Homo sapiens: one gene and its partner. The protein of the gene in region 2 purifies or fractionates together with the protein of the main gene of each other region. This does not show direct contact. Each region holds a gene or a part of one and is shown on either strand. Other genes may lie near its edges.

Region 1 (3,500 bases), on a different chromosome or scaffold from region 2:
TTGTACCCACTTTATATTTCTCAAAACTACTGAGGAAAAGGATTCCAGCTCATCTTAGGATGCTATCATCAGGGAGTATGTACTATCTATGCATGGCAGCTATCTAATACAGTAGGCAGTAGCCCTGTGTAGCTGTAACTATTGGTTTATGGCTTAGCATTTGATCTATCCTGGATAATGTTCAATAAACATTTGATTAGAATGTGTATTCTGCTGTTGTTGAGTGGAGTGTTCTATAGATATCTGTTTTTTAGTGTTGTTCAAATCTTCTACTTTGCTGATCTTATGCCTACTTGTTCTATTCATTATTGAAAACAGGGTATTGAAGTCTCTTTAATTCTGTTAGTGTTTGCTTCATCTATTTAGGAGATTGGATGTTTGGTGCATGTATGTTTATAATTTTTTTAATCTTCCTTTTGTCATTGTAAAATGTTCCTCTTTATCTCTAGTAACATTTTTTTGTTTTAATGTCTGTTTTGCCTGTTATAAATACTACTATTCTAGCTTTTTTATGGTTGCTGTTTCCATTATATATCTTTTTCCATCCTTTTACTTTCAGCCTGTTTATATTTTTGCATCTATTGTATGTCTCCATAGACAGCATATAGTTGGCTCTTGTCTTTTTATCCAGTTTGCCAATGTGTGCCTTTAATTGGAATGTTTAATCCATTCACACTTATTGTTGTTATTAATATAGTTGGATTTTAAGCTGTCATTTTACTTGCTTTTATATGTTTCATGCCTTTTTTGTTCCTTATTTCTCCTTTATTGCTTTTTCTTAGATTAAGTGAATATGTTCTAGTGAACATTTTAATTCTTTTCATGGTTTTTTTACTATATATTTTTGAAAATATTGTCTTATACATGGAGATTATACTTGTAGTTTCATTCCTAGACCATTTAGTAAATTTCTGTTAGTCTGTAGTGTACCAGAAATCATTATTGCATTTCTTCTATGCATAGTTGGTATAACGTAGGAGGTAACTAAATATAGATTGATTATAAATGAAGATAGAGAAAAGAAATTTGATTCCTTTTTGTCTTCTGTATGACAGGCATGCTATCTGCCAGATATGAAGTCAATATTATTAATATTATGGTTAACTTGATTTTAATAATTTAAAAAAATACTTAGTGCTTTTCTATTATAAGTGCAAGAGATTGGCTAAGTACCATGGAGAGTAGTAAGATCTACAAGAAGCAGATCTGTCATTTTAATGAGTTTTACCATCATTTCTGCTACATTATAGACTAAGAGAAATTCTTTGGATGGCCTGGGAATGAACTCTCTCTGTATAATATGTGCATGTCTTCCCAGACAGGATACAGCATATCATAGGTAAAAACAATAGCGTTTGAATCAGATAGAACTGGCTTAATGTCTGAGCGTCTGCCACATAGTATATGTACCAATTCTTTATGAGTTTTAGGCTCCAGATTTGTAGGGTTTATAATATCTAATTTATAAATTTGCTGTTTGTGTCGAGAGAAAGAACTATTGTATATAAAACCCTCAGCACAGTGCCTAACACCACATGGGATGTGATTAAAAATTCCAAATAAGAAATAAGTACTCAAAAAGATGTAAAGATACAATATCTGTGTAAAATTGGAATGTCTGTTTCCAAAATACACCAGAAAGTAAAAAATATTGAATACTTGTTCATCACAGGTATTTAATATTTGTTGAATGACTGTTGAATTAATTTGTTACATTCTTGGTGATAGTAATTAAGTGTGTAGTATCGTTTTTAATGTCTCCCTCACCCCCCTGCAGTGGTTTCATGCTCAGTGTTCATAGGTAGATTCTTTGGGGGCTTTGGTGGCCTACCCTTTGTGAGGCACTCATTTTTCCTAAAGTGTTATATACTATATGTTTATTTTTTTTAATTAAGAATACATATTTCTTTTTCTGTCTATAGTAAAAAACAAAGTTTTTACTGACACCTGTAATTCTGGTGGTATAGCACAGAGTTCCTTCCAGCCTCCTTCCTTTTTATATTTGAAACTGCCTATTCAACATTAAGAAATGTGGCTCTGGCCACGCACCATTGTTCATGCCTGTAATCCTAGCACTTTGGGAGGCCAAGGTGGATGGATTGCTTGAGTCCAGGAGTTCGAGACCATCCTGGGCAACATGGTGAAACCTTGTCTCTACAAAAAAAAAAAAAGAAACAAACAAACAAACAAAAAAACAAGAAACAGGGCTCCTATTTCCACAATCTGTTTACATTTTTGCTGAGTCTCAGAATGCAGAGAAACTATTGCTTCAGAATTGCTAGCACTGTACCTCTGTGGGGTATACAGTAGCATGGGGCCTAATAATTAGAGTTAAATATTTAATTAGAGTTAAATATTAGTTTAGAGTTGTTTTTGTCTTTAATCTTTTTTTTAATGTATGGTAAATCAAAATTGCTTCAACTATTTATATCTTTGAACTCGTTGTGTTGGTATGTAAGAAAGCTATTGATTTTTTTTGAGTGATAAATTTTATATTCTGCTTTTTTACTGAATTCTTCTATTGTTTGAGTTAATTTTCTCATTCATCCTCCTTGGGTTTTTTTTTGCATGACAAAGAGTCTTTACTTTTAAATGATTATCAGTACACCAAGTAGTAACATGTAACAAGTTCTTGAATTCTGTCCTCTTTGATTAAGTAACTAAAACTGGCCCAAACAATTATACTAGTGTTCATTGTTCTAACCACTAGCAGGAATGGACTACCAGATATTGCAGAAAAAGGCCAAGACTTCACCCCTCTTCTGCCTAAACTGCTTCCAGATGGTTCTCTTCTCCTGGGTCTCCTCTACTTTAATGCTGCAGCTGCCTTGGGATCGCAGGGCAGCAGCCTCCTTGGCCTTGAACTCTTTCTCCCTCTGCAGGCAATATTGTTCAATTTCACCTTGAACTGCTGCTTTGGCCTGCTTCTCCCTCCGGTTCTTTCACTGCAGGTCTCAGACACCCTTTTCAGCAACCTGCAGCAGCTACTGGATCCCCTGAGACTGACTGGCCATGACAGCACCAACTCTGAGGCAGAAGCAAGCAGCCTAAATCTCTCTCTCTTTTTTTTTTTAGAGAATGAATCATATCTGCAAATAGAGATGTTTTACTTCCTCTTTTTCAGTTCCTAGAACTCTAATTTCTCTTGCCTAATTATATTGTTTAGTGCCATCACTACAGTTGTGTTCAATAGTAGTGGAGATGGTGGGCATTCTTGCCTTGTTTCAGTCTAAAGGAAATGCTTACATTGTGTTTGCATTAAGAAAGATGCTGGCCCTGAAGATTTTATCTTTGAAATATAGTACTTTTGCAAGGTACTTCAGGATTACTTGATATGGGTCAATTGTTTTGCCTTGGTACTCAGTGAGTCCTTTCAAAATGTAGATTCAGAATTTTTATTATCTCTGGCAAAGTGTTTTTTTTTAAGATTATAATTTTAAATATTAATTCTGTTATTTTTTTTCTTTTTCAGGGATTCCTATTTTATGCACATTGGATCT
Region 2 (3,500 bases):
ACTATTTTATCAAGTTTTCTTTTTTTCTTTGTGTAAAATATTTTATTACCATTGTATCTAGTCCATGGAGGCCCTTTTCCAGTCTGTGGTCTTAGTCTGCCATTTGGTTTTCCTATTTCTTTCCTAATTTTTTCTCGTTGTATATTTATATAGATCCTGTTTAGATTTTTTGTATACTTATCTTTAAATAGGCAAGTTTTTCAGGGACCAGCTGTTTTGCAGGATGTTTGTTGGAGGAGCTACCAAAACTCTGTTCTGGGCTAGCTACAGTTGTTCCCTTGATTTAGGGTTCTGGGTGAGTCCGTTTACCCTTAGTCTCTAGCCAGCCAATCGAGATAGGCAAGGCGTCTCTTAGCATCTCCACAATGCAAAGGATGTCTTCTCTACTACCACAGACACCACCTCTGTGAGGCAAATGTAGCTTGCGTGATTTCTCATTTAGCCTCAACTTCAGGTCCAAGGAAGTTCCTGCCTTCCAAAAACAAGGAATTAATTTGGTGCTGGAGTGTGTCCTTTACCCACAGGAAGTACATATTTTTGCAGATCTTTCTGAGATCACCAGCTTCCCTGTCCTCTCCCTGTAGCATCCTTTCTTCTTTTTCTTCTGTGAAGCAAAGGAGTCCCTGCCTGAGCTCCCTGCTTTTGACAGCTTTTTCACCTGTTTGGGGGTTTGGAATTTTGGATATCCTGTAGTTATAACAAAAATGGAGTTTGCATTTTTATTTCTTCTTTTTGCATTTGGAACATATTTTGAACAGCATTTGAAAATGCTGACTTTATGATGCAGTGTTAAATAAGAAGTTTTAACTGACTTTTTCTGTTAACCAGCCACTAGTCTCCACGACATCATGTGTTAGGCCTTTTACTATACCTTCTCCAGAAAGCCCCCACCACCACACTGTTGTCTATCTTCGAAGTCCCTAAAGCCCAAGGAATATGCTACTTAGATATATGGAAAGCCTTTCATTCATTTAGCATGCCTACTCTGAGCGTTGTTCTAGGCCTTGGAGATAAAGCATGGAAGAATTAATACAAGATATTGACACACCAAAGACAAGTCTTAAATGATTTCATGTGGACTAGGGGTCAGGGATGAATAGAGTGGAAGACATAGTTTGGGATTCTGAGGAAGTATGATATAAAGGGTAGAACATGAGCTCCGGAATCAGCACCATTCTGCTGCTAATATACATGACATTGGGATCATTTTATTGCCTTTTCCTCATATATAAAATGTATCAATTTCTTCATATATAAAGTGAAGTCAGGCCAGGCGTGGTGGCTCACGCCTGTAATCTCAGCACTTTGGGAGGCCAAGGCAGGGGGATCATCTGAGGTCAGGAGTTCCAGACCAGCCTGGCCAACATGAGGAAACCCCGACTCTACTAAAAATATAAAAATTAGCTGGGCATGGTGGCGGGTGCCTGTAATCCCAGCTACTCAGGAGGCTGAGTTGGGAGAATCGCTTGAACCCAGGAGGCGGAGGTTGCAGTGAGCCAAGTTCACACCACTGTACTCCAGCCTGGGTGACAGAGTGAGACTCAGCCTCAAATAATAATAGTAATAATAATAATAAAGTGAAGATTATATTACCTACCTTAGATGAATGTTGTAAAATTAAGGTAAGTTACATAAAGTACTTGGTTCATAATAGATACTCAACAAGTACTACTTTCTACCCACACAGGGATTGGCTAAATAAAAGGAATAAATACTGAAAGTGCAGGTATAGAGGACTATTTCTCTCCTTTTTTGTTAAATTGTGGTAAAATATGTAACATATAGTTTCCTGTCTTCACCATTTTTAAGCTTACAGTTCTGTGGCATTAAGTATATCCACATTGTTGTGCAGTCGCCACCACCATCCGTCTCCAGAGCTCTTCATCTTGCAAAACAGCACCTCTGTACACATTAAACAATAGCCACCACTGTCCTCTTCCCCCTGCCTCATGGCAGCCCCCGTTCCAGTTTCTGTCTCTGAATTTGACTACTCTGGGTACCTCACAGGAGTGGAATCACACAGTCCTCATCCTTTTGTGTGTGGGTTGTTTCACTTATAGTATCTTCAAGGTTCATCCGTGTTACATTGTGTCTCAGAATTCCCTTCCCTTTTACAGCATCTCAATTCAGATGAAAAAAAAAAAAAGAATTCTTTTCCTTTTTAAGGCTGAATAATATTCTGTTGTATTTCTATGGCACATTTTGTTGATCCAGTCGTCTGTTCATGGACACTTGGGCTGCTTCCACCTTTTGGCTGTTGTGAATAATACTGCTATGAACATGGGTGTACACATTCTCTTCAAGTCTTTACTTTCAGTTCTTTTGAGTGTATATCCAAAAGTGGAATTGCTGGGCCATATGGTAATTCTGTTTTTAATCTTTTTGAGGAACCACCATACTGTTTTCAGAGGCCTATTTCTTGATGGGGAAGTATAAACAGTGGAATTCCCCCAGGGAATAATTTTAAAACCAGTCTTGTTTAACATTTTGTAAATTATCTAAATATGAGACTTTTACCATTAAATCTTCATTTGCATATAGCTAATGAATAATTCATATTGTATAAAATGTAAGAACACCTCGTGAGAGTGTGTGTGTGCGTGTGTGTAGACAGAACAGTGGTTAATAAAGCTCAATGTGGGCACACACGCAAGGGAATACATTTGATTTATTATACTCTGTCCTCAAGATCAGAAGTTCCCTGCACTTACTGAGGGCAAAATACAGGGAGCCAATGCCAGAGAACTTCAGATGTCAGAAGTGCACAGTGCCCAGATATGCAGACACATCTTTCTTCTTGACTCTGCATTGCTGACAGAGTAAACTGGTGGTTGACTCTAGACTCTGGACCAGTGGTTCTCAGCTGGGGTGAATTTGCCCCCTGGAACACATATGACAATTCTGGAGACATTTTTGATTGTCAAGCTGGAGGAGTAGAGACCAGGGATGCTAGAGAACAGGCCACAGTGACAGGACAGCCCCACAGCAGAGGATTATCTGGTCCCAGATGTCACTAGTACCTAGGCTGAGAAGCCCTGCTCCAGACCCAAATTACCTTCTCAGCCTTGTCTTAGCCTCTCTCCTGCATAAAGAAAGTTGCCATCCCAGCCAGACCCAGGAGCTCCCCATACCTGCCCATACACCAGCTGAATTGCTCCTTCCAACATCTTCTACCTGAAATTCTTTCCCCTACCTCTCTAATGTCAGAGCCCAGCTTCCATCCTCCCACTGTCTCTGTGAAGCTCTCTGATCTCTCTAGCCACTGTACCCTTTCTTCTCTGACTTCCCCAGGACTATCCCAGTCATTTGGCACTTAGTTAACAATAGAAGGTTGTACTTGCTGTCTTCCCAACTTGACCGAAAGCACCTTGAGGGCCATTTGATGTGATTTGGTTTGAAATATGGAGTACCATTCCTTATGAACCACAGTGGGCATCTCTGCTTTGACCCACCCAGGGCTTTCTGTGACAGCTTTCCTACCACAAAGGGGTACAGTAGTT

What was found. The genes of interacting proteins can lie anywhere in the genome.
Region 1: the proteins of AP3S2 (region 2) and AP3B1 purify together in Homo sapiens (affinity purification with western blotting; one study listed by BioGRID). This does not show direct contact.

The regions. Positions count from the first base shown.
Region 1 is NC_000005.10:78,221,699-78,225,198, reverse strand, and holds part of AP3B1 (AP-3 complex subunit beta-1), read left to right. Parts: intron 1-3,500. UniProt on the Homo sapiens protein: Subunit of non-clathrin- and clathrin-associated adaptor protein complex 3 (AP-3) that plays a role in protein sorting in the late-Golgi/trans-Golgi network (TGN) and/or endosomes.
Region 2 is NC_000015.10:89,838,495-89,841,994, reverse strand, and holds part of AP3S2 (AP-3 complex subunit sigma-2), read left to right. Parts: intron 1-2,650; exon of another isoform or gene 2,651-3,500. UniProt on the Homo sapiens protein: Part of the AP-3 complex, an adaptor-related complex which is not clathrin-associated. The complex is associated with the Golgi region as well as more peripheral structures.